Linked DNA regions of Homo sapiens. The protein of the gene in region 5 purifies or fractionates together with the protein of the main gene of each other region. This does not show direct contact. Each region holds a gene or a part of one and is shown on either strand. Other genes may lie near its edges.

What was found.
Region 1: the proteins of PMEL (region 5) and MTNAP1 purify together in Homo sapiens (affinity purification with mass spectrometry; 2 studies listed by BioGRID and IntAct, with this or other methods). This does not show direct contact.
Region 2: the proteins of PMEL (region 5) and DAGLB purify together in Homo sapiens (affinity purification with mass spectrometry; 2 studies listed by BioGRID and IntAct, with this or other methods). This does not show direct contact.
Region 3: the proteins of PMEL (region 5) and INTS7 purify together in Homo sapiens (affinity purification with mass spectrometry; 2 studies listed by BioGRID and IntAct, with this or other methods). This does not show direct contact.
Region 4: the proteins of PMEL (region 5) and CGRRF1 purify together in Homo sapiens (affinity purification with mass spectrometry; 2 studies listed by BioGRID and IntAct, with this or other methods). This does not show direct contact.
Region 6: the proteins of PMEL (region 5) and TMTC4 purify together in Homo sapiens (affinity purification with mass spectrometry; 2 studies listed by BioGRID and IntAct, with this or other methods). This does not show direct contact.
Region 7: the proteins of PMEL (region 5) and SERPINE2 purify together in Homo sapiens (affinity purification with mass spectrometry; 2 studies listed by BioGRID and IntAct, with this or other methods). This does not show direct contact.

The regions. Positions count from the first base shown.
Region 1 is NC_000017.11:73,235,433-73,238,932, forward strand, and holds part of MTNAP1 (mitochondrial nucleoid-associated protein 1), read left to right. Parts: intron 1-43; 5' UTR 44-50; coding exon 51-1,563; coding exon of another isoform or gene 1,564-1,664; exon of another isoform or gene 1,665-3,206; intron 3,207-3,500. UniProt on the Homo sapiens protein: Critical regulator of mitochondrial DNA (mtDNA) abundance. Binds dsDNA throughout the mitochondrial genome without sequence specificity and controls mtDNA copy number by promoting its replication.
Region 2 is NC_000007.14:6,409,955-6,413,454, reverse strand, and holds part of DAGLB (diacylglycerol lipase-beta), read left to right. Parts: intron 1-420; coding exon 421-489; intron 490-571; coding exon 572-644; intron 645-3,074; coding exon 3,075-3,325; intron 3,326-3,419; coding exon 3,420-3,500.
Region 3 is NC_000001.11:212,004,558-212,008,057, reverse strand, and holds part of INTS7 (integrator complex subunit 7), read left to right. Parts: intron 1-608; coding exon 609-808; intron 809-1,296; coding exon 1,297-1,419; intron 1,420-3,500. UniProt on the Homo sapiens protein: Component of the integrator complex, a multiprotein complex that terminates RNA polymerase II (Pol II) transcription in the promoter-proximal region of genes.
Region 4 is NC_000014.9:54,530,406-54,533,905, forward strand, and holds part of CGRRF1 (cell growth regulator with RING finger domain protein 1), read left to right. Parts: intron 1-497; coding exon 498-645; intron 646-3,500. UniProt on the Homo sapiens protein: Able to inhibit growth in several cell lines.
Region 5 is NC_000012.12:55,959,543-55,963,042, reverse strand, and holds part of PMEL (melanocyte protein PMEL isoform 3 preproprotein), read left to right. Parts: intron 1-1,310; coding exon 1,311-1,421; intron 1,422-1,579; coding exon 1,580-1,726; intron 1,727-3,500. UniProt on the Homo sapiens protein: Forms physiological amyloids that play a central role in melanosome morphogenesis and pigmentation.
Region 6 is NC_000013.11:100,668,296-100,671,795, forward strand, and holds part of TMTC4 (protein O-mannosyl-transferase TMTC4), read right to left. Parts: intron 2,275-3,500; 5' UTR 2,068-2,274; coding exon 2,065-2,067; exon of another isoform or gene 1,988-2,064; intron 500-1,987; coding exon 284-499; intron 1-283. UniProt on the Homo sapiens protein: Transfers mannosyl residues to the hydroxyl group of serine or threonine residues.
Region 7 is NC_000002.12:224,036,487-224,040,520, reverse strand, and holds the start of SERPINE2 (glia-derived nexin isoform b precursor), read left to right. Parts: upstream 1-1,234; 5' UTR 1,235-1,422; intron 1,423-1,880; exon of another isoform or gene 1,881-2,017; coding exon of another isoform or gene 2,018-2,031; intron 2,032-4,034. UniProt on the Homo sapiens protein: Serine protease inhibitor with activity toward thrombin, trypsin, and urokinase. Promotes neurite extension by inhibiting thrombin. Binds heparin.

The DNA.
Region 1 (3,500 bases), on a different chromosome or scaffold from region 5:
ACAAACTATGTGCTTCTCATAATCTCACATTTACCTTTTTCAGGAATAGGATGAGTGATAATCCACCCAGAATGGAAGTGTGTCCTTACTGTAAGAAGCCATTTAAACGATTAAAATCCCACTTGCCATACTGTAAGATGATAGGACCAACCATACCTACTGATCAAAAAGTTTATCAGTCCAAGCCAGCTACACTCCCACGTGCTAAAAAGATGAAAGGACCAATCAAAGATTTAATTAAAGCTAAAGGGAAAGAGTTAGAGACAGAGAATGAAGAAAGAAATTCTAAGTTGGTGGTGGACAAACCAGAACAGACAGTGAAGACCTTTCCACTGCCAGCTGTTGGTTTGGAAAGAGCAGCTACTACAAAGGCAGATAAAGACATCAAGAATCCAATCCAACCATCCTTCAAAATGTTAAAAAATACTAAACCAATGACTACTTTCCAAGAAGAAACCAAGGCTCAGTTTTACGCATCAGAGAAAACCTCTCCTAAAAGAGAACTTGCCAAAGATTTGCCTAAATCAGGAGAAAGTCGATGTAATCCTTCAGAAGCTGGAGCGTCTTTACTGGTTGGCTCAATAGAACCTTCTTTGTCAAATCAAGATAGAAAATATTCCTCAACTCTACCTAATGATGTACAAACTACCTCTGGTGATCTCAAATTGGACAAAATTGATCCCCAAAGACAGGAACTTCTAGTAAAATTACTAGATGTGCCTACTGGTGATTGTCATATTTCTCCAAAGAATGTCAGTGATGGGGTTAAAAGGGTAAGAACATTATTAAGCAATGAGAGAGATTCCAAAGGCAGGGATCACCTCTCAGGAGTCCCTACTGATGTTACAGTTACTGAGACTCCAGAAAAGAACACAGAATCCCTCATTTTAAGCCTTAAAATGAGCTCATTAGGTAAAATCCAAGTCATGGAGAAACAAGAGAAAGGACTTACCCTGGGAGTAGAGACGTGTGGGAGCAAAGGAAATGCAGAGAAAAGTATGTCTGCAACAGAAAAGCAGGAACGGACTGTCATGAGCCATGGCTGTGAGAACTTCAACACCAGGGATTCAGTCACAGGAAAGGAGTCTCAAGGGGAAAGACCACATTTAAGTTTGTTCATTCCGAGGGAGACGACTTACCAGTTTCATTCTGTATCGCAGTCAAGTAGTCAAAGTCTTGCCTCTCTAGCTACAACATTTCTTCAAGAAAAGAAAGCAGAAGCCCAGAATCATCATTGTGTCCCTGATGTAAAGGCATTAATGGAGAGTCCCGAGGGACAGTTATCTCTGGAGCCCAAATCTGATAGTCAGTTCCAAGCATCACACACTGGGTGCCAGAGCCCTTTATGTTCAGCCCAGCGTCACACTCCTCAGAGCCCCTTCACCAATCATGCTGCAGCTGCTGGCAGGAAGACTCTTCGCAGCTGCATGGGGCTGGAGTGGTTTCCAGAGCTCTATCCTGGTTACCTTGGACTAGGGGTGTTGCCAGGGAAGCCTCAGTGTTGGAATGCAATGACCCAGAAGCCACAACTTATCAGTCCCCAGGGGGAAAGACTCTCACAAGGTAAACAAGCTTATTTTCAATTGCCATCTGTCCCATCCAAAATGCTCTCTCTGCCTTTTGAATTTATAAGGGTCAAAATACTAACATTTTCAGTCATTTAGTTTATTTTCACCTAGGCATGCCAGTAGACTGCATATAAAGTTGTCCTGAAAGAGGCTGGGTGTAGTGGCTCACACCTGTAATCTAAGCACTTTGGGAGGCTGAGGCCAAGGCAGGTGGATCACTTGAATTCAGGAGTTAAGACCAGCCTGGGCAACATGGTGAAACCCCATCTCTACTAAGGATACAAAAAATTAGCTGGGTGTGGTGGCGCACCTGTAGTCCCAGCTATTTGAGAGGCTAAAGTGGGAGATCACCTGATCCCGGAAAATCAGGGCTGCAGTGAGCCGAGTATGTGCCACTTCACTGCAGCCTGGGCGACGGGAATGAGACCCTGTCTCAAAAAAAAAAAATTGTCCTGAAAACATTACTTCTTGCTTCAGTGGTCAGTAGTGGTGGTTTATCCCTCTCTTTTTCTCTCCCCCAAGAGTTGAGGGTTACACTAGGGCAGGCTGGCGATACTGAAAGCAGTTGAGTTTCTGCCTTGAGAAGAGGCATGTCCAGTAGAAACTGGATGGGTAAACAGACTGGAGAAAAATATAAAGACTTGAAATTCAGCTAGATAGAATAAGCACTGTGTTCAGAATCCAGTCAGGACCAGGTTGTACAAGAAATAGGTTCTAAGTTTACAGGACAAGAAATAGGTTCTAGGTTTCAGGCAAATGCAACATCTAGGAATTTAGAGTAGCAAAGTAGGATGCAGGTGGTAGGACACAGGTAAAACTAGCCAGGTAAGACGGGCAGGCAAGGCAGATAAGTGGAAGTGGAGGCTCAGGAAATGAACAGTGAAGATCAAGGACCAGAAACGGAGGATGTGGCCAAAAACAAAAGAAAAAATGTAGGCCACAGAGACTAGGACCCAAGAATAAAACCAGTGATTGAGCCTGGAAACAGGAGAGATGAGGCGAGAAGGGCTTGGGGCGAAAGACTGAACGTTGAAACTCACCTTGATTATGAATCAAACTTCAGAAGCTTCCTAGAGGCTCCTTTTGCTGATGGCTGGAATCGGTTAACAGGAGGGAAGACCAAGGCCCAAGGAGCCAGGAAGTTCCTGACAGTCATTTGAAATATCTTTGCTTTTCTCTGCTGAATCTCATCTTTAGTTATGAGACCACCTCTCTAGTTAAAATACATAAAGTTTCTTAAGCTTTTCTAGGGGCAGGGTGATTGTAAAGTAGCATACCTGTCGTTTGTAAAGTAGCATACCTGTCGTGTGTAGTGGCCATTGGTGCTTTCATGCTTATTTTGACAGGAGACCTGTAACAACTCAGAATAGGTTTGCAAGAGAAAAACTGGTATTATCTCTTCCTAAAGGGAAATCATTTTCTTCTCTGGTAGATTTTGCAAATGATCTCATATTCACTAAACCTCTATTTGCCTGGTCTCAAAATGGATGTGTACTAAAAGCAGAACATTGCTAGCCCAAAGCTACATTTTCTTTAACTACCTTCTATAAACAGGCCTAACGTCTAGACCTTTTTGCACAAAGTTGTAGTCACAAAGTCAAGCCCCTTCTCCGTAATAAACACATTTAATTATATTAACATTTGTGTTGCTTTGTGGTTTTCAGAGTGCCTCCATCTGTATTTTTTTTATTTTGGGCACAAGGTGGACAGAGAGGTGGGCAGAGTGAATTTATCCTATTTTGTGGATGATGAAACAGGCACAGAGAGCATAAGTGATTTGTCCAAGTTTGTGTTGCCAATAAATAGTAGAGCTGCAAGGAGAACCTAGTTTCCTGAGGCCTAGTTTAATCTTTTCCACTAAACCATGTTGTAGAAAATACACCATAACTAAAACCATGTTTGTTATAGTGCCATACTTTTCTGTGTGTGTGT
Region 2 (3,500 bases), on a different chromosome or scaffold from region 5:
CTTTTACCGTGTTAGCCAGGATGGTTTCAATCTCCTGACCTTGTGATCCGCCTGCCTCGGCCTCCCAAAGTGCTGGGATTACAGGCGTGAGCCACTGCACCCGGCCTCCAGTGCATCTTTGATGGAGTCTTCCAAGCGCGGTTTCTGGGTCAAAGGACAGATCCATGTGCTTGGTCCGCCTTGGTGTCCAGTTTGCGGTTTTAGCTGCGGGGCGTCTCTGTTGAACACATATTGTGGCTTTAGTAGGATCTGGCCAGTGAGTTGCCATAACTGACGTTTCCCCTACCCTCCCTTTAGAGAAGAGAGAACAGAGCTGAGGCCTGGGAACCTAACCCCTCAGTGTTACTGATTTCTTTCATGGAAGCCCTTGTGGGCAGTGTCATCGTAAAGCTAACATCCTCTCTCTGTTTGGAATTTCAGCAAAGCTCTGCAGGAATATTCTCAGAGCTTCATCGTGTCACTCGTCCTGGGGAAGGATGTGATTCCCAGGTAAGCCCACCTGGTGCTGTGCCCAGGGCTGGGGGGTTGGGAGTGCCAGGTCCCAGCCTCAGTGTGCCCCTTTGCTAAACAGGCTCAGTGTGACCAACTTGGAAGATCTGAAGAGAAGAATCTTGCGAGTGGTCGCGCACTGCAATAAACCCAAGGTAAGCGGGTGCCTTGTTGAGAGGGTCAGCAGGACACGGGGCCTGTCCCTGAGATCCTGTGGAGAGCCGGGAGGAATTGCACCCTCAGTGCAGGGCACTCTATGCTGTTGCTGGAAGTTCTCCTTCCACCATCTGATCAGATTCTGGGCTAGGACTCTGTGATGTCTAAGAAAGCAAATGGCTGCAGCAAGTGCGGGAAATGTCACAGGGAGGAAACAGGATCTGGGCTGGGAGCAGTGGTGTATGCCTGGAATCCCAGCACCTCAGGAGGCCAAGGCAGGAGGATCCCTTGAGGCCAACCTGGGCAACACAACAAGACCCTGTCTCTATTCTAAAAAAAAAAAAAGAAAAGAAAATACTCTGGAGGAACTGTTTGATTTTGCTTTCTGACAAACTTCTTAGTCCTGTCTTGTGACTAACAGTTTGTTAATGCCTTTTGGCTTTGTTGTCCGAAAGCTTAGAAAGCAAGGCTGCCAAATAGACCTTAAGAGGTACAGGCACATTTATCTACACTGTGGATATCATGCAGTTATTAAAATGGTGATATATGTCCACGTCAAGGGTTTTTTAACATGGTGGTAGAAATTTATGTCTGCTGGCCAGGCGCGGTGGGTCACGCTTGTAATCCCAGCCCTTTGGGAGGCTAAGGCAGGCAGATCACCTGAGTCAGGAGATCGAGACCAGAGTGGTCGACATGGCAAAACCCCGTCTCTAGTAAAAATACAAAAATGAGCCAGGGGTGGTGGTGAGTGCCTGTAATCCCAGCTACTTGGTAGGCTGAGGCAGAAGAATCGCTTGAACCCAGGAGGCCGAGGTTGCATAAGCCAAGATCGCACTCCAGCCTGTTGGATAGAGTGAGGCTCTGTCTCCAAAAAGAAGAAATTTCTGTCTGCCGATAAAGATAGATATCCATTGAAAAGTTCAAAAGAAAAAAAACTTAAAAATTATTCTTAAGAGATATGACTCATGGCAGAGAGTGGGGACAAGGAGATACAGATATATGAATTTTGACAAAAATTTGAAAATACGTATGCCAAGGGTGGTTTTGTTTAGTGTCGGTAGAGATGATTTTTACTTGTTTAATCCCTTTGTTTTCTGACCTTTCTCATGGTTTTGTTCCTAATCAGAAAGAAGAAACGCAATTTAAATTTTTCTCCTTACCAATTACCTCCCCCAGTTTTTTCTTTTTTGAGACAGGGTCTCGCTTTGTCACCCAGGCTGGAGTGCAGTGGCGCAGTCTCGGCACATTGCAGCCTCCCAAGTTCAACTGATCCTCCCACCTCAGCCTCCTGAGTAGCTGGGGCTACACTACAGGCATGCGCCAACACACCTGGCTAATTTTTGTATTTTTTGTAGAGACAGGGTCTTACCATGTTGCCCAGGCTGGTCTCAAACTTCGGGGCTGAAGCAATCTGCTTGCCTTGACCTCCCAAAGTGCTGGGATTACAGGTGTGAGCCACTGCTGTGCCCAGCCTAAAATTTTTTTTAGAAATTAGTATCTAGGGCGGGCCCGGTGGCTCACGCCTGTAATCCCAGCACTTTGGGAGGCTGAGGTGGGTGGATCACCTGAGGTCGGGAGTTCGAGACCAGCCTGACTAACATGGAGAAACCCCGTCTCTACTAAAAATACAAAAAATTAGGCCGGGCGCGGTGGCTCACGCCTGTAATCCCAGCACTTTGGGAGGCCAAGGCGGGTGGATCACGAGGTCAGGAGATAGAGACCACGGTGAAACCCCGTCTCTATTAAAAATACAAAAAATTAGCCGGGTGCGGTGGCGGGTGCCTGTAGTCCCAGCTACTCTGGTGGCTGAGGCAGGAGAATGGCGTGAACCCGGGAGGCGGAGCTTGCAGAGAGCCAAGATTGTGCCACTGCACTCCAGCCTGGGCAACAGAGTGAGACTCCGTCTCAAAAAAAAAAAAAAAAAAAAAATACAAAAAATTAGCCGGGCATGGTGGCAGGAGCCTGTAAGCCGAGCTACTCAGTAGGCTGAGGTAGGAGAATCGCTTGAATTCGGGAGGCAGATTGTGGAGCCAAGATCACGCCATTGCGCTCCAGCCCATAGAAATTAATATCTAATGCCTTTCAGGGAAGGAAGGGTAAAGCTGATTTCCAGAATTGCCGGAAAATAATTAAGGGAAATATCCCTCACAGTCTGTATGGCTTAGTTTTTAATATTGCTCCACGTGTGATGGTTTTACTGCCCAAGAGAGAGCCCACACTCATGATCTGTGACTAGGCATAGAGCCTTGTCCTGAGCCGAGGTGGCTGCCACCCAGCACAGCTCGCCGGTGCATCTTTGCTGGAGTCTTCCAAGCGGGGTTTCTGGGTCAAAGGGCAGATTCCTGTGCCTGGTCCGCCTTGGTGTTTCGGGAGGTCTCGGGTGACAGAGGGTGAGTGACAGCATTCTACTGATTGGGTCTCGCCCTCAGTACAAGATCTTGCTGCACGGTTTGTGGTACGAACTGTTTGGAGGAAACCCCAACAACTTGCCCACGGAGCTGGACGGGGGCGACCAGGAAGTCCTGACACAGCCTCTTCTGGGGGAGCAGAGCCTACTGACGCGCTGGTCCCCGGCCTACAGCTTCTCCAGCGACTCCCCACTGGACTCTTCTCCCAAGTACCCCCCTCTCTACCCTCCCGGCAGGATCATCCACCTGCAGGAGGAGGGCGCCTCGGGGCGGTGAGTGCGGCGTGGTGGGTGTGGTGGGCAGGCAGGAGCAGCGCGGGGTCAGCCCTGGGGCCGCGTGGGAGCTGTCTCTCCTTTTCTGCTTCAGGTTTGGCTGCTGCTCTGCTGCTCACTATAGCGCCAAGTGGTCACACGAAGCGGAATTCAGCAAAATACTCATAGGTCCGAA
Region 3 (3,500 bases), on a different chromosome or scaffold from region 5:
AAATTTGTGTTCACCATGACCACAAAGCCATGCCATAGAGAAAAGATTTGTTGGTTTCGCTCCACTGTTGACAGGAAAACGTGGATTAGGGTTAGTCTTCATGGATCCAGTCGTGTATGCAATAAAGAAAGGCATTTACTACACAAAGTTCAGAGGACTTCGAAACCATTCTACACACAGTTTATTCACATCCTGATTATGATTTAGTTGTTGAAGGAAATAATTAAAATCATAAGTATAATCAGACTGTAGCCATCAAGTGTGTGTGTTTGTGTATATATATGTATATGTGTATGTATAATTTTTTTACTATGACAATGAGAGGAAATAGGCAGCAAATATGACTTTGCTTTCTACTGTGCTTTTTAAAGGCAGTTTTTATTATCAGCATGTAGTTTTATAATCATTGAAAAGTTAATGTCAAGATAAATACTTAGGAAAAAATATTGAATTTATCAATTGGTTCTAGTATAATCTTTAATGTTATAAATATATTAGTATACTGTGTTTTTCAAGTGCAATTTTGCTAAATGAGTCACAGCTTTTAAATCTGGAATATTATTAAGGATGGTGATCACAAATACCTTGAGAATTATTTTTGTGTCTAGGTTTAGCGACACCAGTAGACTTGAAGCTAAAATTGATACCCATTCTACAGCACATGCACCATGATGCAATCTTGGCTTCCAGTGCTCGTCAGCTTTTACAACAGCTGGTCACATCCTATCCGTCCACCAAAATGGTGATTGTGTCTTTGCACACTTTCACTCTGCTTGCAGCGTCATCTTTGGTTGATACACCTAAGCAGGTAATTTCAATTTTCTTTAAACTGCCTATCTTTGGTAAACTTACATATTAAATATATGATTAGAAATAAGAAAGTGGCCCACAAGTCTTGAGGACATTAAGGTTCTTTTCTCTAATAAAGGTCAGATTAATTTGCTTTTGCTTGCTTTTTTATTCTCTCTGTTCACAGTACTGATTGTTGGGAGCCCTTGAGGAAAATGAGATGTTATGGAGTACATGGCTGGGTGTGAAGTTGGCCGTATAAAAAAAAAAAAAGAAAGGATTGAGTATCTGTAAAATGCCAGGGCCTGTGCTAAAACTTTAAAGTTAAATGGTAGTATTTTACAAACATGGAGAAAGAGGCCCAAATGTGGGCACATAGCTAGTGAGTGACAGGGCTCTGATTTGAAGTGAGTCCTGTCCCTTTATAAGTTTCACTAAACTACACTGCATTTCTAATGATCATTTCAGTTACAGTATTGTTTATGGAGTGACTTATTTCCTTTATAGATTCAGCTTCTGTTGCAGTATTTGAAGAATGATCCCAGGAAGGCAGTAAAGAGACTTGCTATTCAAGATCTGAAATTACTTGCTAATAAAACACCACATACTTGGAGTAGGGAGAATATTCAGGTATGTAGAACTTGTAACATTTTATATAGAAAAAATAATATAACATTATAATATAGTAAAATGTTTTGCATTTTTATATTGTCTTTGTCATCTTCTAAGTGGTTGAATATGAAAAACTTCTAAAAGCATTGTTGATGTTTGTGGCAGTTATTTTATAAGTGGCACAATAAATACATAAAACTTCTATACTTCAATGTTTGTTTTAGTCAGTGAAACTTGCCACTCAGTTGCTTGTTCATTCTCCCATAGTGGCACTAAGGCTAATTGAGAAGCCCAATTACATTGGTTTGGTTTTTTTATTCTTGTATTTTTCAGTCAATTTGGGGAGAAAAATTTAGGGGCTGAATGTTATCTGTAATGGAGGTAGGGCTGGATGGGCAACTTGGGAAATATATTTCTCTCTTCCTGGAGAGCTGAAGACATTCCTAAGTCTTCTTTTGTAAACAGAAGAGCAGATCTCACTCTTTAGACTTTTAATGTGCATCTTTGACACCATCTCTTACCATCTGTTAGGTTAAATTAATATTTTATGTTTATTTTTTTCTCAAAATAGAACCCTGTTTGTTTACCCATTACCGATAGAAATAACACCATTTTGCAAATAATGCTATTTAAAATGGAACGGTAGTTTTTATCTCTCAGCTTCATCATGACTCCAGTGGATTAAAAATCTTTGAATTTCAGATTATTAAAACTAAACTGCTGTGTTTGTTTTTCTGTTTGTTTGTTTGTTGTTTTCTAAACATCTTTTAATTTACTATATTATGATTTGATAGTCACAGATATCCCAAGATAAGGGCAGTTGTTAAATCTGCATTTAATAGATAAGCAGTTAGGGTTCAGAGAGACTTAATATGCTTAAGAGAGCATCTTAAGAGAAGTAAATTAAGAATTTAATTAAGAGAGCTTCTGTCCTCTGATCCCTAGTCTTATTGCTTTTTCTACTAAATAATGCTATCTTTCCAAGAAGAGAATGTGCCCAGCCACTTTAGTCATTTTAGAGAATTTGTACAAAGAACCAAACCCAGTTATTTAGAAAGATGAGTGAGAAGCACAGTATTATTCCTTCTCATTTTTTTCTTATTGTGAGATAGATCATACATACAGAAAAGTATGTAAAATATATAAATAGTTTAAATACCTTTAAGTGAGAAAAGTATGTAAAATGTATAAATATTTTAAATACTTTTAAGTGAAAACCCATGCAACTACCATCCAGCTAGAAATAGAACATTACAGGATCACAGAACCCTGCCTCCTTCCCTTGCGTGGTCCTTCCTGGTTGAAACTTTACACCTTCCAAAAGCAAACCACCATTTTGACTTTCATGATAATAATTTCTTTGCTCTTCTTTTACCTTCTTCACATGTCTTCCTAAAGAATACTGTTTAGCTTTGTTTTTGTTTCTTTTGCTCAGCATTACACTGGTGAGACTCATCCATGTCTTTCCCCTTTAATTGTAATGTACTATCCCATTGTATGAATGTATCACAGTTTATTTGCTCTCGATGGGTTATTTCCGCATGGGCCTATTGCAAACAGTGCAGAACATTCTTCTGTTTGTCTCCCAGTTCACACACGCAAATTTCTTTAGAGTGTATACCTGGGAATGAAATTTCTGACTTACAGAAAATGCGTATCTTCAGTTTTAACAGATGATGTCAAACTGTTTTCCAAAGTCAATGAACCAGTTTACATTCCTGCTGTGTATGAGGGCGTCCATTAATCACATCCGTACCAACACATAGAATTATCAGACTTACGTTTTTTACCAGTTTAGAAGTTGTACTTTTTATGTGTAGCTCCTTGATTATTAAAGAAATTGAACACCTTTTTAATATGTTTATTGACCATTTGGATTTTCTCTTATGACATGGCTATTCAGGTCTCTTGCCTATTTTTCTGTTGATTCATAGTTATTTTTTATATATTTGGAATACTCATACTTTGTTAGTCCTTGACAATTCTATATAAATTTCAGAATCAGCTTGTCAAATTTAACAGTTTGATTGGGATTACACTGAATATAAAGATTAGTTTGTAAGAAATTGGTAACTTTATAATATTGTCTTCCAGTGCAT
Region 4 (3,500 bases), on a different chromosome or scaffold from region 5:
GTATCCTTTCATCTGATATACCCATTAGCACTGAAAATTAGACTTCTTATGGATAAAGTGTTGCTAACTTATTGATCATTTTTGGTATACTAGAAGCATGTTTATTGCTTCAGAATAAGCACTCCCCAAGCATTAGAAGATGCTCTGTGGAGTGAATATCTCTATCAGGAACAGTATTTGTATCCTTTCATCTGATATACCCATTAGCACTGAAAATTAGACTTCTTACGGATAAAGTGTTGCTAACTTATTGATCATTTTTGGTATACTAGAAGCATGTTTATTGCTTCAGAATAAGCACTCCTCAAGCATTAGAAGATGCTCTGTGGAGTGAATGTCTCTATCAGGAACAGTATTTGTATCCTTTTATCTGATATACCCATTAGCACTGAAAATTAGACTTCTTATGGATAAAGTGTTGCTAACTTATTGATCATTTTTGGTGTATTTTTGTTCTTATGGTTATAGTGGCAATTTACCTTTACATTTTCAAAAAGTATTAAAAAGGATAGCAAAGAAGAAATATATTGCCAGTTACCAAGAGATACTAAAATTGAAGACTTTGGTACAGTACCCAGATCTCGCTATCCATTGGTAGCGCTATTGACCTTAGCTGATGAGGATGACCGGGAAATTTATGATATTGTAAGTAATTGAAAATTTTGAAAGCATTACCTTTAAGTGATTTGAATGGTGGTTCTTCATTATTTGATAAATAGAAAAAGTTTTATTTTAATTTCTGAGGATGTGCATTTGGCCTACAACAACTATATACCTATTTGGTTTTTATATGTGAAACAGTACCTTCAGATTATGACTCATTTCTTGCCTTATGGGTCACAGTAATATGACTTTATTTGGAAAATAAAAGATATATAATGGTTGAATTAAGTTAGTTTCATCATTAACACCTATTTGGTTGTATACACCTATTTAGTTTTTATATGTGTAACAGTACCTTCAGAGTATGACTCATTTTTTGCCTTATGGATCACAGTAATATGACTTTATTTGGGAAATAAAAGATATATAATGGTTGAATTAAGTTAATTTCATCATTCTGTATTCTGTCATATTTGCTGTATAGAAACAGTCTGTTGGGAAGCATGTTTATTCTGAACATGTTTAGCAGTGAATAAATAAGCACAATAATGATCGAAAGTGCTCAATTTTAAGATAGTATCCACTCTTTTTTTGCCTGCTTGCAGTCACCTTGTTTCCATCAAAGTCCCTGCTGCACCTATATCTTATATGTCTGGTCCCTGTATTTTCAGTAATTATAATAATCTCCTTTCCTCATTATGTGCTAATTATTTTTTCAGTCTGATAGTTGATTCCTATTAGGAAGTTAAAAGTATCTTAGAGATCTAAGAGGACTGAAACTTTGACAATCATCTGAGTATAATAGAAACTTAGACATGAAATAAACTTTTGATGAAATTGTATCATGGTAAAAATGTCCTTACACACAATTGACTACTTTTCTGAAGTATTTAATATAGATTATTCATTAATAAACATATGGTAACATTGTTTTGTGATATTCGTAATATGCAAAGTACGTTCACAAACATGAACTTATTTTTTTCTTCTAACAACCTGGTTTCTTAGGACAGGGCAAATATTCTCCTTTCACAGACTGAAACAGAGTCAAGAAAAATCCCAGTCATTCAGGCAGTAAGAGATGGAACAAGAGCTTGACTCTGAGCTTTTTGTGTGTGTTTGTTTGTTTTTGTTTTTTGAGTTTATTTTTTTTAGCAGGAATATCTTCCTGCAACAAGTGTACATTGAGCTTTGGAAGGTAAAGACTCTTTGGGAAATCTAGACCCTTCTTACTCATTTGCAGTTAAGCACCTAGGTTTTTGGTTTTTAATATTTTCAAACTGAAGTTCCATTGAGCTGAGGTCAGCTTATTTTTTCCAAGTCATGGGGAGCAGAGGGGAAGGAAATGGGGATATGTAGGTCACTAGAGACAAAGTTACAGATACATAAAATGAACAGGTCTAGAGATCTAATGTACAGCATAAAGACTATAGTTAATGTGGTATTGCTTTTGGGATTTTTGGTGCTCTTGCCACATGCAAAAAAAGTGGAAGTAACTGTGTAAGATGATGCGTAATTTGCATTATAATAGTAACCATTTCACTAGGTATATATATATCAAAACATCCTGTTGTACACCTTAAATATATACAATAAAAATACAAAATACAAAAGTCATACCAGCAGTAGTGTATTTCCAGAACCTAGTACAGTGCCTAGGATATAATAGGGGTTCAATAAAGATTTGATAAGTAAAAAAAAAAAAAAAAAGTCATACTAGACAATGTTAATGAGCCTCATAGAGCTTGACAGCGAAACACCTTAGCTGTACATCCCATGCACCTTAGCGTGCATGAGAGGCCTTCTGGCTTCCTCCCTCCTTTCTCTCAGTTTCAGTTAGAGATAAATAAAACCTGTTAAATTGGTGTCTCCTATTTCTAGCTTCTTTGTTCTTGACCCTGTGTACTTGGGCAAGGAAGCCCTTCTGCCCCCACTGTGTGCCCCATCTCTGCTGAGTTTCTTGGGTTCTGTTCTCCTTTTTCCTTTGGTTCAGCACAAAAGGATCAGATCGCAGTCATTTTCCCTCCCAGCTTCCCCATTGCATTCCTTTTCCCTTCACTGATAGTGCTCTCTAGGTGCTCAGGGTCTTTTTTTTTTTCTAACTTTCTTCCCCTGTCCAAACAGGGAGTGATTGTGTATCTGTGTGGTAAAATATATATATTTTATATATAAAGTTTACCATTTTAACCATTTTTGTGTGTGTGTTTTCAGTTCAGTGGCCTTTTAGGCCAGAGAAGAGTTTGCTCTCAGGTCCCTGATCACACTGGATGAAGACTGTGTGGCCCAGCTGTAGTTGTGGGAGGCTTGTTCCCATAGGGAAGCCTGAGTGTCTCCCAAGGGTTAACAGCCATCTTCTCTTGTGCTTTGTGTATGTCTCTGTGTCTGGGTCCTTTTGAATGTCTTTTATTCTCATCTGTGGGCTCCCTCCTTTTTTCCTGTTAATCCTTGCTTCTCGTCTTATTTCTTAGATTGGGGGTAATATTGGCACTCAAATATATTTATTAGTGTATTTTGTATTAATGTTCTCTGTTTATAATTTTAAAAGCAAATGGACCATTTCCTATTTCTTTTTCATATGTGTTTTTTCAGTATTGTATGTGCGTGTCAGGGACTATATTTTTTTAAAAAATTTATTAATAAAATCATTTTTATTTTAACAGCAAAGAATTATATTTAGGTAGTACAGTTAGGAACCACTTTGTTGTTTTAGATTAAAAAAAGGAAAGCAGGAATTGTTACTACAAAATTTTGACTTTAAAATTTTTTCATTTTTAGTTAATTACATTGGCTTTTTTTCAGTATTATTCAAATAATACATTTGTGGCAGGAAAAAAAATTAGAAAGTGTAGATAAGCCAAAAGGAGAGAAGTATAATAATCTGTATTCTATCATCCAAA
Region 5 (3,500 bases):
TGGAACTACAGGTGCCCACTACCACGCCCGGCTAATTTTTGTATTTTTAGTAGAGACAGGGTTTCACTTGGCCAGGCTGGTCTCGAACTCCTGACCTTGTGATCCACCTGCCTCGGCCTCTCAAAGTGCTGGGATTACAGATGTGAGCCACCATGCCTGGCTAAAAGTAAATTTTATGGTATGTGAATTATGTCTTGATTTAAAACAAAACAGGCGAGGCGCAGTGGCTCACGCCTATAATCCCAGCACTTTGGGAGGCCGAAGCGGTTGGATCACTTGAGGTCAGGAGTTTGAGACAAACCTGGCCAACATGGAGAAACCATGAAACATGGCGAAACTAAAAATACAAAAATTAGTTGGGTGTGGTGGTGGGTGCCTGTAGTCCCAGCTACTTGGGAGGCTGAGGAACGAGAATTGCTTGAATCCAGGAAGCGGAGGCTATAGTGAGCCAAGATCACGCCACTGCATTCCAGCCTAGGGGGCAGAGCGAGACTCCATCTCAAAAAAAAAAAAAAAAAAAAAAAAAGAGTAATAATAAATAAATAAACAAATAAATAAGGGGTTTTTTGTGTTTTTTTTTTTTTTTTTTTTTTTGAGATGGAGTCTTACTCTATCGCCAGCTGGAGTACACTGGTGCAATCTCAGAATCTCAGCTCACTGCAACCTCTGCCTCCCGGGTTCAAGCAATTCTCCTGCCTCAGCCTCCCAAGTAGCTGGAACTACAGGTGCGCACCACCATGCCCGGCTAATTTTGTATTTTTAGTAGAGACAGGGTTTCCCCATGTTGGCCAGGATGGTCTCTATCTCTTGACCTCATGATCCACCCGCCTCAGCCTCCCAAAGTACTGGGATTACAGGTGTGAGCCACCACACCCGGCCAAATAAATGAGTTTTAAAAATGCACTTCAGCCGGGCGCAGTGGCTCACGCCTGTAATCCCAGCACTTTGGGAGGCCAAAGCAGGCAGATCACCTAAGGTCGGGAGTTCGAGACCAGACCAACCAACATGGAGAAACCCCATCTCTACTAAAAATACAAAATTAGCCTGGCATGGTGGCACATGCCTGTAATCCCAGCTACTCAGGAGGCTGAGGCAGGAGAATCGCTTGAACCCAGGAGACAGAGGTTGCAATGAGCCGAGATCATGCCATTGCACTCCAGCCTGGGCAACAAGAGCGAAACTCCATCTCAAAAAAAAAAAAAAAAAAATGCACTTCGAATGTGAGAATGAATGGAGTGACATGAATAGAGTGTTATCCCTGAGAAGGAACTGAAAGGATCCTAGGGCCCTTCATGGCACATTCCTTTTAGTACCCAGAAACCAGGACTGGCTTGGTGTCTCAAGGCAACTCAGAACCAAAGCCTGGAACAGGCAGCTGTATCCAGAGTGGACAGAAGCCCAGAGACTTGACTGCTGGAGAGGTAGGAACTTGGAAGTTCCAGGGGAGGGCATGGTGGGAGTGGGATGAGGAAAAAAGCAAGCTGAACTGCATCGAGTGTAGCTTGGGAAGAAAAGGAGGGGAAACGTATACAGGGAGGGGAAGCCCAGGAGTCCCAGCTAATGTAGCTTTCCTTCCCAGGTGGTCAAGTGTCCCTCAAGGTCAGTAATGATGGGCCTACACTGATTGGTGCAAATGCCTCCTTCTCTATTGCCTTGAACTTCCCTGGAAGCCAAAAGGTATTGCCAGATGGGCAGGTTATCTGGGTCAACAATACCATCATCAATGGTGAGTACTTCTCTATTCTAGGTCCTTATTCCTAGGGCTCAGGTTCCCTGGTATGCCCAGTGAGCTCAGGGAATGCCCCTTCCTTCTCTACTTTTTTTTTTTTTTCTTTTTTGAGACGGAGTCTCGCTCTGTCGCCCAGGCTGGAGTGCAGTGGCGCAATCTCGGCTCACTGCAAGCTCTGCCTCCCGGGTTCACGCCATTCTCCTGCCTCAGCCTCCCGAGTAGCTGGGACTACAGGCGCCTGCCACCATGACCGGCTAATTTTTTTTGTATTTTTAGTAGAGACAGGGTTTCACCGTGTTAGCCAGTATAGTCTCCATCTCCTGACCTTGTGATCCGCCCGCCTCGGCCTCCCAAAGTTCTGGGATTACAGGCGTGAGCCATCGCACCCGGCCTCCTCCTTTAATTTTTAAAACAAGTTATATGTGTAATACATACTCATTGTAGTTAAAATTTAAAAACACAGAGAAGGCCGGGCGCGGTGGCTCACGCCTGTAATCGCAGCACTTCGGGAGGCCGAGGCGGGCGGATCACGAGGTCAGGAGATCCAGACCATCCTGGCTAACACGGTGAAACCCTGTCTCTACTAAAAAAAAAATACAAAAAATTAGCCGGGCGTGGTGGCAGGCGCATGTAGTCCCAGCTACTTGGGAGGCTGAGACAGGAGAATGGCGTGAACCCAGGAGGTGGAGCTTGCAGTGAACCGAGATCATGCCACTGCACTCCAGCCTGGGCGACAGAGCGAGACTCCATTTCAAAAAAAAAAAAAAAAAAAAAAACAGAAAGCAAAAAGAAAAGAAAATTACAGTTGTAGTCCCTGCTACTTAGCAGTCTCAGGTGGGAGGATCATGAGCCTGGGAGGTCGAGACTGCATGATCACGCCACTGTACTTCAGCCTGGGTGACAGAGTGAGACCCTGTCTCAAAAAGAAAAAAGAAAATTACAGTCCCTAAAGTGGAGGACAGCAGAATTCAGGGGACCTAGAAGTTGAACAGACCTATATTTAAACTTGTCCTTGATATGTGACCTTGGGCAAGTTACTTGTTTTGTGTTTCCATTTCTTTTTTTTTCTTTTCTTTTCTTTTCTTTTCTTTTTTTTTTTTTTTGAGACAGAGTCTGGCTGTGTCGCTCAGGCTGGAGTGCAGTGGCAGGATCTCAGCTCACTGCAACCTCTGCCTCCTGGGTTCAAGTGATCCTTCCGCCTCAGCCTCCTGAGTAGCTGGGAGTAGCCTCCCGAGTAGCTGATACAGGCGCATGTCACCATGCCCGGCTAATTCTTTTGTATTTTTAGTAGAGACGGGGTTTCACCATGTTATCCAGGATGACTCAAACTCCTGAGATCAAGTGATCTGCCCACCTCACTGTGTTTCCATTTCCGAAGATAAAAGGATTGTTGTAAGGATTAGAATGTGATAATATGTGTAAAGTACTTAATGTAGTGTCTGCTCTAGCCTACAGTAAAGGCTAAATAAATGCTATCTAGTGCTGTTATTTATTTATGTATTTATTTTTGAGACAGAGTCTCGCTGTGTCGCTCAGGCTGGAGTGCAGTGGTGCGATCTTGGCTCACTGCAGCCTCCACCTCCCAGGTTCCAGCGATTCTCCTGCCTCAGCCTCCTGGGTAGCTGGGATTATAGGCTTCCGCCAGCACGCCTGGCTAATTTTTGTATTTTTAGTAGAGACAGGGTTTTACCATGTTGGCCAGGCTGGTCTTGAACTCCTGACCTCAGGTGATTTAACCGCTTCAGACTCCCAAAGTGCTAGGATTACAGGT
Region 6 (3,500 bases), on a different chromosome or scaffold from region 5:
GCCTTGTAATCTTAGAATAACGGCCTCTTTGATCCATATGTGGACTGGAGCTCTTGAGGGGAGTGCCTGAGCTGAGGCAGGGGTTCAGAACCTTGGTGCCAGCAATAAGAAAGGCACTAAATCATGGAGGCGATGTTGAAAAGAGAGAAAAATCGAGAGCACCATCGGGGCCCAGGCCAATGCTTAACCTACATTCCACAGAGAACAATGCAACACATACTTAGATGATTACTGAGACACAGTTGGGCAGTTAAGTTTACCAGAAAAGAGTTGAGATACAAACCTTATTGTTAACAATAGCTTCTGAGTCATCAAAGACAAAGTCTCCATCATAGCTGCGTGCAAAACACACAATGGCAACCGATCCCACTACTAACTTAGCCCAGAATGGAGGAAGAACAGAAGATGGAAGAATGTGATCCAAATCAGTGTCCAACACGGCCATTCTGAAAACTGCAGGTTGGTGGCTCCCGGCTCCAGCATTATGCTGGTTAGGAATCTGCAGGAAAAACAACACTGTATAAATATTCATCAACACTGGTAGGACCGTTTCTGCAGTGGGCACCGTGAGTAAGAGCTAGATAGTCATTTATGCTATGATTTTATAGGATGTGATCAGTAACAATTTGAAGCTGTGCTTCCCAAACTTTAGTGGGCAGAAAAGTCACATGGGACACATGCAGATTCCTGGGTCCGACCACAGGATCTATCAAATCAGATGCCCTTTGGTTTCTGATGCCAGAATATCGTTTAGAAATACGAATGTAATGGTATCCTCATCAACCCCACAAGGCAAATCATTTTTAATCGTCCTTGAACCAGTTTACAAAGCTTAAAAAAAAAGTTACCATCCTACCTCATCCAATCCAGAAAAATTAATAAATAGTCATTGTTGGGTTTTAGCACACTGTGTGTGTGGCAGGGGAGAGGGTCGTGTGTAAAACACAACCCTGCTTCTGAAAGAGCTTATGGTCTATTTGTAGCATTCAGGCACACAGGCCAGGGAGCTGAGACTCTGACACAGAGACAGGGGAGTCGAACAGAGAAATCCTAAGGCGGGGCACAGGATCGAATGCTGGGTTCCTAGGCTACTGGCTCAACACAGAGGACAGATAGAGGAAATGACTGGTGGGGACAATATCTTGTCCCAGAAAAGGCTGAGCCATACAAAGGAAAGGAAGGGAGGCTATTCTGTGTGAGGATATGACCTTCAATCCTGGTGAAAGAGTCAAGATAAAAATATATCCTATTTTGAACTTTTCTTTCAAATGGGCATAATGTTTCTCGCCGGGGATGCCTGTGCCTCATCCTTGCCATGTGTTAGTTGTGCGGTCCTGTGCACAACCCCTTTCCTCTCTGAGCCCACCCCCTGCGGCCCTCTGCAAAGCATCTTAACGCCCAGTGGTCAGCGGTGCCTAACAGCTTCCCGCCTTGGAATTCGCCAAAACAAATCTCAACCTACCCCCAAACTCGCACTTTTTTATCTGTCCCCATTCCCACCACATCCTGGACAGGTGCTTTCTTTGGATTTACCAGGATCAGGTTTGGGTAAGACTGCTCGGTTCTGACCTGGGGTACCTCTGGCAACTTACTTGACCTCTCTGGGCCTGTTTCCTCAACACTAAAATGGGGATGGTAAGAGTGCCTACCTTCTAGAGTTGTCATGAGGGTTAAATAGGATTCCCAGCACTGCCTGGCTGTAATGAAGGCTCAGGGGAGGCCGGCTACTATTACTAATACTTTCTTCCAGAAGGCTGAAAGCAGAGGCACAGAATGATTTTCTGTGGGAAATCCCTTTTAGTAGCTGGTTGATTGGTACCGAGGCTCCTGTCTTTACTAAGGGACCTGGACCCTGTTCTTTTCCTGCTGAGATGAAAGAGAATTCCAGCCCCCTGATTGGGAAGGCAGTTTGGATGTATTTGTTTCTGGATCTCTAAGTGGATACCCCAGATTATGGAATCAATAAGAAGCCAGCCAAATAGGCCACCTGAAGTCACAGGCATCTTTCTATAGCCTTCTGTCTGAGTGAAGATGGAGACAGATCCAACAGGCAACGGGACACACCATTCCATGGTGATGCTGTCCCCTTCCAGGGGCCAGAAGGAGGCTCAGATTTACAATCCAGAGATGAAACAGGCCGCAACTCTTCCACTGCTTGTCTCTCGAGCCTCACAGCCTGGCATACGGCATGCTCTCAGCAAGTGCTGGGGGAATACTGCAGCTACTTTTCTTTTCCAGTCAAAGGATAAACCACTTCTCGAATCTAAATTACAACTGCAAACACAACACAGGTTAGCACACAGACCCCAACCTCTATGCTTACATTTCAGCTAAAGAAATTACTCCTGCTACTTAAAAAACAACAAATCAAGGCTGGTTGCAATGGCTCACGCCTGTAATCCCAGCACTTTGGGAGGCCGAGGCCGGTGGATGGCTTGAGCCCAGAGGTTCGAGACCAGCCTGGGCAACAAGGTGAAACCCCGTGTCTACAAAAAAAAATACAAAAATTAGCTGAGTGTGGAGGCGTATGCCTGCAGTCCCAGCTACTCAGGAGACTGAGAGGTGCGAGTATTGCTTGAGCCCAGGAGTTCCAGGCTGCAGTGAGCTGAGATCACACCTCGGCTCTACAGCATGGGCAACAGAGTGAGACCCTGTCTCAAACAACAACAAAGCCCAACAAAGCCAAATACTGAATAGTTAGGAAGATACTATGATTTAACATGGGGAGAAATTTTAGAAAATTAAATGTGAAGGAAAACAAATAATTTATAGCAATTTTAAATGCACAATAGAGTCATGAGCTGACAAAAGGTCATGTAACCGGTTTTGACGTTATCTGTTTTATTGTTTCAATAGTGAATTTATTGGCTCATGCAATATATTTTTGGAGATGGCGTCTTGCTATGTTGCCCAGACTAGCTTCAACTTTTGGGCACAAGTAACCCTCCTGCCTCGGTCTCCCAAGTAGCTGGGACTATAGGAGTGTGCCACTGAGCCTGGATATTATCTGCTTCAGGCTCAAATATTTGAAAATTATTTCACAAACGTTTGTCAAGGTTCAAATGGCCTTCTAAGTAGAATACTAAATCAGGAAATACTTTGTGCTCCTAAATTAGCGACTGTACCTCAGATTGCTTAGAACATAAACGTGTTCTAAGCAATATGTTCTAAGCATAATCATGTTCCAAGCCACAGCCCCAGGATATATAAGGCAGACTGTGGACCACACCATCAACGAGATGCCCTGGTAGGAGGCCAGGTCCAGACTCTTGGGAAGTCAAGTGGATGGCTGACTCAGTGGATCTCAGATGATCTCCTCCTCTGCTCTTGCAGGGACAGCAGGAAACCTGGCCTACCTCCAACGCCCCTGCCCCTACATCATTTCCCAGTTCTGGCTGGCTCTCCCCTCCTTGCTGTGACTCCCCTGCTTCTCTATCTCAGGGGGCTCCTTCTCCTTTCTCCAAGGCCTCCCACTTCTTTGCTGCCACTGAAAATACTCA
Region 7 (4,034 bases), on a different chromosome or scaffold from region 5:
GGGACAAAAAGCATTTCAGGCACAGAGAATAAGAAAGTTACCCTGTAACTGAATATAAATATTTGGTATGACTGTAAAATAATTAAACAGATGCTCATTTTTGTAGACTGTTTGCTCCTTATTTTAGGACCAAGCCTCCCATAGCCTGTTTCCCTCTATGAGAGACTGAGAACACCCTTAGGCTGGTCCAGATTTTACACTTTTCAGAGCAACCCCTTCCCCAACACACACGTGCACACTCTGGCACGGCCACCTGCATGCCAAGGGGTGACTGCAGGCTGATCTTCCAAGTGGCTCTCATCAGTAGCTGTACCCTTAATCCAGGGCTGTGTATAGGGAGATTTACATTTCTTCCTCGCTGTTGGGGCCGTCTGCCTGCTAGCGACGATTCTACACTAACGGCTACATAAATTACTGTCATTAAAGTTGGGTCCTTGGGTCCCCAGAAACCTAACTAGAGGCAAAGGAGGAACCAACTAAGAGAGGTCCAGGTAACAGAGCCCGGAGCGGGACGGTCATTTGTTGCAGGCCCCTGGGGTATGTGCCTGTCTATCGCGCACCGGGTCCCAGCAGCAGTGGTTACCGGCTGAGAAGGGCTGGGTTCCCAGGACGCTGCGGGTACCTCATGCTATCACCATAGCCGGGAATCCAGTTTTCTGGTTCCCCTCGTCTGTATTTGCCTAAGGCGACTTGCCGCCGTTCCTCTGTCCCCTAGGCAGGGAGAAGTCAGCTCTAGGACACCCTGCAAAACGCCTCGAGGGGTTATCTGCCCCTTCCCGGCCGCGTCCTGGCACCGTTTCCCCATCACCCGGAGGACTGAGCGCTGTCTCAGGGCGCCCTCTGTCTCTTCCAGGGGGCAGCCAAGACGACATGCCCTGCGTCTCAGGGACGCGGTACGAGCCCTGGTATTCCCCCCGCCACCTCACACACCCCCATCCGGGAGACCCACGTGCAGCTGGGCCCGGGCTGGCGCCGCACCTCGGGGTCTGCGCGTCTCCCCGGCGCGTTCCGGGCGCAGCCCCACGACACGGACCCCTGGCGGGGCGGCATCCGAGAAGTCGCAGGCGGAGAGGGGGCGTCCTGGAGGCCGGGCGCGGGGACGCTGCGGCCCGCGGCCACACAAAGGAGGCGGCGGGAAGGCGGGGCAAGGCGGGCCGGGGGCGGGGGCGGCAGGAAGGGGCGGGGGCCCGCGCGGCGCCGCCGATAAAGCCCCCGCCGCCGCGGCAGCCAGCTTGCGCTGTGGGGCTGCCCGGGCTGCGCGGCGTCTGCAGGCGCCACCGCTGCCTCTTTCCGGCTGTGACCCTCCTCGCCGCCGCCGCTTGGCTGCGTCCTCCGACTCCCCGCGCCGCCGAGACCAGGCTCCCGCTCCGGTTGCGGCCGCACCGCCCTCCGCGGCCGCCCCCTGGGGATCCAGCGAGCGCGGTGAGTACAGGCTGCGCGGTGAGTCCCGGGCGCGGCCGGCGCTGCCCTCGGCGGGGGACGCTCCCCGGGGCTCCGCGCGCCACCGGCCCTGCTCCCTGACCTTGCGCCCGGCCGGGAAGCTGCGGGGCCAGCGGGACCCTGGGGCGCCGACGTCGGGGAGCAGAGAACTTTCTCAGCCTCCCGCGGGCCGCCTTGGCCGGGGCTGGGTGCTCGCCGGGCATCCCGGTCCCGCCCGCCGGGAGCCCCGAGCGGGACCCGGGCAGGGCAAGGCGGGGCCGCCCCGGGGTGGCGTCCAGTGATACCCGCAGCTGGGAGCACCGGGGCCGGCGTGGCTCCTGCCCGGCCATCCGAGCCGGCCCTGACCCTGAACCTGAGGTTTCCAGCTGCTCGCCGGCAACCCCTACCCCGGACTTAGGCTGCGCGCCGCCGGATGGGGAGAGACTGGCGCACTCTTACTTGTTACCTCTGCCTGGGCAGAGGGAGGTGACGCGCGGTGTGGGGAAAGCCTTTAACTTGGCCTCTGGCAGCCGATTTAACCCGAGCGAGCAGGTCTTTGCTATTTTCATCATCTGTAGAAACGGGAGTTGCGAGGCGGATGAGTGACTGCAGGTAAAATGAAAGTACGGTACTCAGAAATTCTGGAAGGAATTAGGCATTTAATGTGTCCACAAACTGAGCGGGGAAGGAAGGCTTCTATTACATAAGACAGCACTCCACCTTCAGGTATTATGGAAGATGCTGTTGAAGGTTTTAGTGTTTTAATGAACGAAACACATTCTTTGTGTGTGTGTCTCTGGAGAAATCTCGAATGCTGCTGTCTTGCTTTGGCTACTTTGCAGGGGACGTTCTTATATTTAGCATCAGCATAAAAAGGTGTTCGAAGGTGTGACTTCCTCTTTCAAGCCAAGAAGCCGTTTATTTGTCTGAATTGTTGTGGAACAATATATGTGATAATTGTGTACTTTGAAGATTTTATATCAAAACTTGAGCACAGATAACTGGAAGAATTGTCAACATTGCTAATTTGTATATCCTAAACCACACTTCGAAAATTGAAGACAGTTTCAACACTATCTGAAGGTCTAAATCAGTACTTATTTGCTATTTGCAGTATTTCAATAGAAAAATTTTTGGCTATGCAAATGAAGGTACTAACCTGAGTAATCTAAGGTTTCTTTTAACCCCCAAATTTTGATTCTTTGTTAAAATAATGTTTGAAAATATCGTACCATGCAGGGCAATTACTGAAGGTCATGAAAATGTCATCGTATTTTATTCTAAAAACAAAAATGAATCTATGCAGAAAATTTCCGTGTCCCATGAACTTCATATTAGTTTAATTTTAAAAGTACTGTCTCCAAAAAAAGCTAATTTTCACTTCCACACAAGGGTGATTAAATACCAGTCAGAGATTGTTTGAGGTGGTAGAGTTGGAAATGAGGTGGTGACCTGGCCACGTCCCTGGGTGCATCTCAGCCTTGCTGTCCTCTTCCAGCCAGTTCTTTTCCCATCGCATGGGGACTTTGGCTCTTGGGCTATTTCTCCTCCTCTAGACCTAAAGTCCATGTGGGGGACGCTCTAGATGCGCACTTCCTTGACTGTCTCAAATCCAGTGTCTTCCATGTACTCCAGCTACCAAGTCCTCTAAGTACCTCCAAGTCTTGCCCTCTCTTGAGATGCTCAACTTCTGAAAACTCTTAGTGCCTCCAACCCGCAAGCTCCTTCCTTCCGGGTTGCAAACCGGACTCCCACTGTAATCTTCAATGCAAGCGATCTCCAATGCTTTTCCTCTTGCGGGTTTGGCAGGTGACTTTGTAGCCCATTCTACCAGGAGAATAGAGGTCATAAGTATCTCCTCACGTCCTCCCCCATCTCCCCTGTACAGACTTTTCTGTGTTTACCCAGTCATCCAATAAATCTTCTTAAGCATCTACTGTGTCTGGGTACTTTGTTGGATACTCATAGGTGGTAAATAGAGCAGATCCTTGCTCGCTTGAAACTGTCATTCTTGTGGGAGAAAACCAACTAAAAGCAAACATAATATGTTGTAAAATGTATGATAAATGAATAAGGTAGAATTATAAAGAAAAATCAAGTTAGACTGAGAACTTAGAGAAATATAGAGAGATGGCCTCCTTGGGGCAGTGACTAATGTCTCCAGCTGTGTCCTGAATCCCAACTCCCAGTGCCTCTCTCTCCTTGTGAGTGTTACTCCCTTTTCTTACTTTTATCTTCAGTCTCTCCCTGTGAGCTTTTTTCTTTTTTAGTAGTATTTTAAGAATGCCTTAACCTCCCTTGTCCCTGCATCCTCAGCTCACCTGTAGTGACAACCACGTCTCTCCAGGCTTCTTAAACTGGTCTGCCCTTCCTGTTCAGCTCTTTGCAAGCTGGCCAGAGTCTCCTCAAAGTTCAAGGCCTGTGACTTCCTGAACAAGCAATCTTTTTTTTTTTTTTTTAATTTTTATTAATATGCTTTAAGCTCTGGGGTACATGTGCAGAACGTGCAGGTTTGTTACATAGGTATACACGTGCCATGGTGGTTTGCTGCACCCATCAACCCATCACATTAGGTATTTCTCCTAATGCTATCCCTCCCCTACCTCACTCCCCGC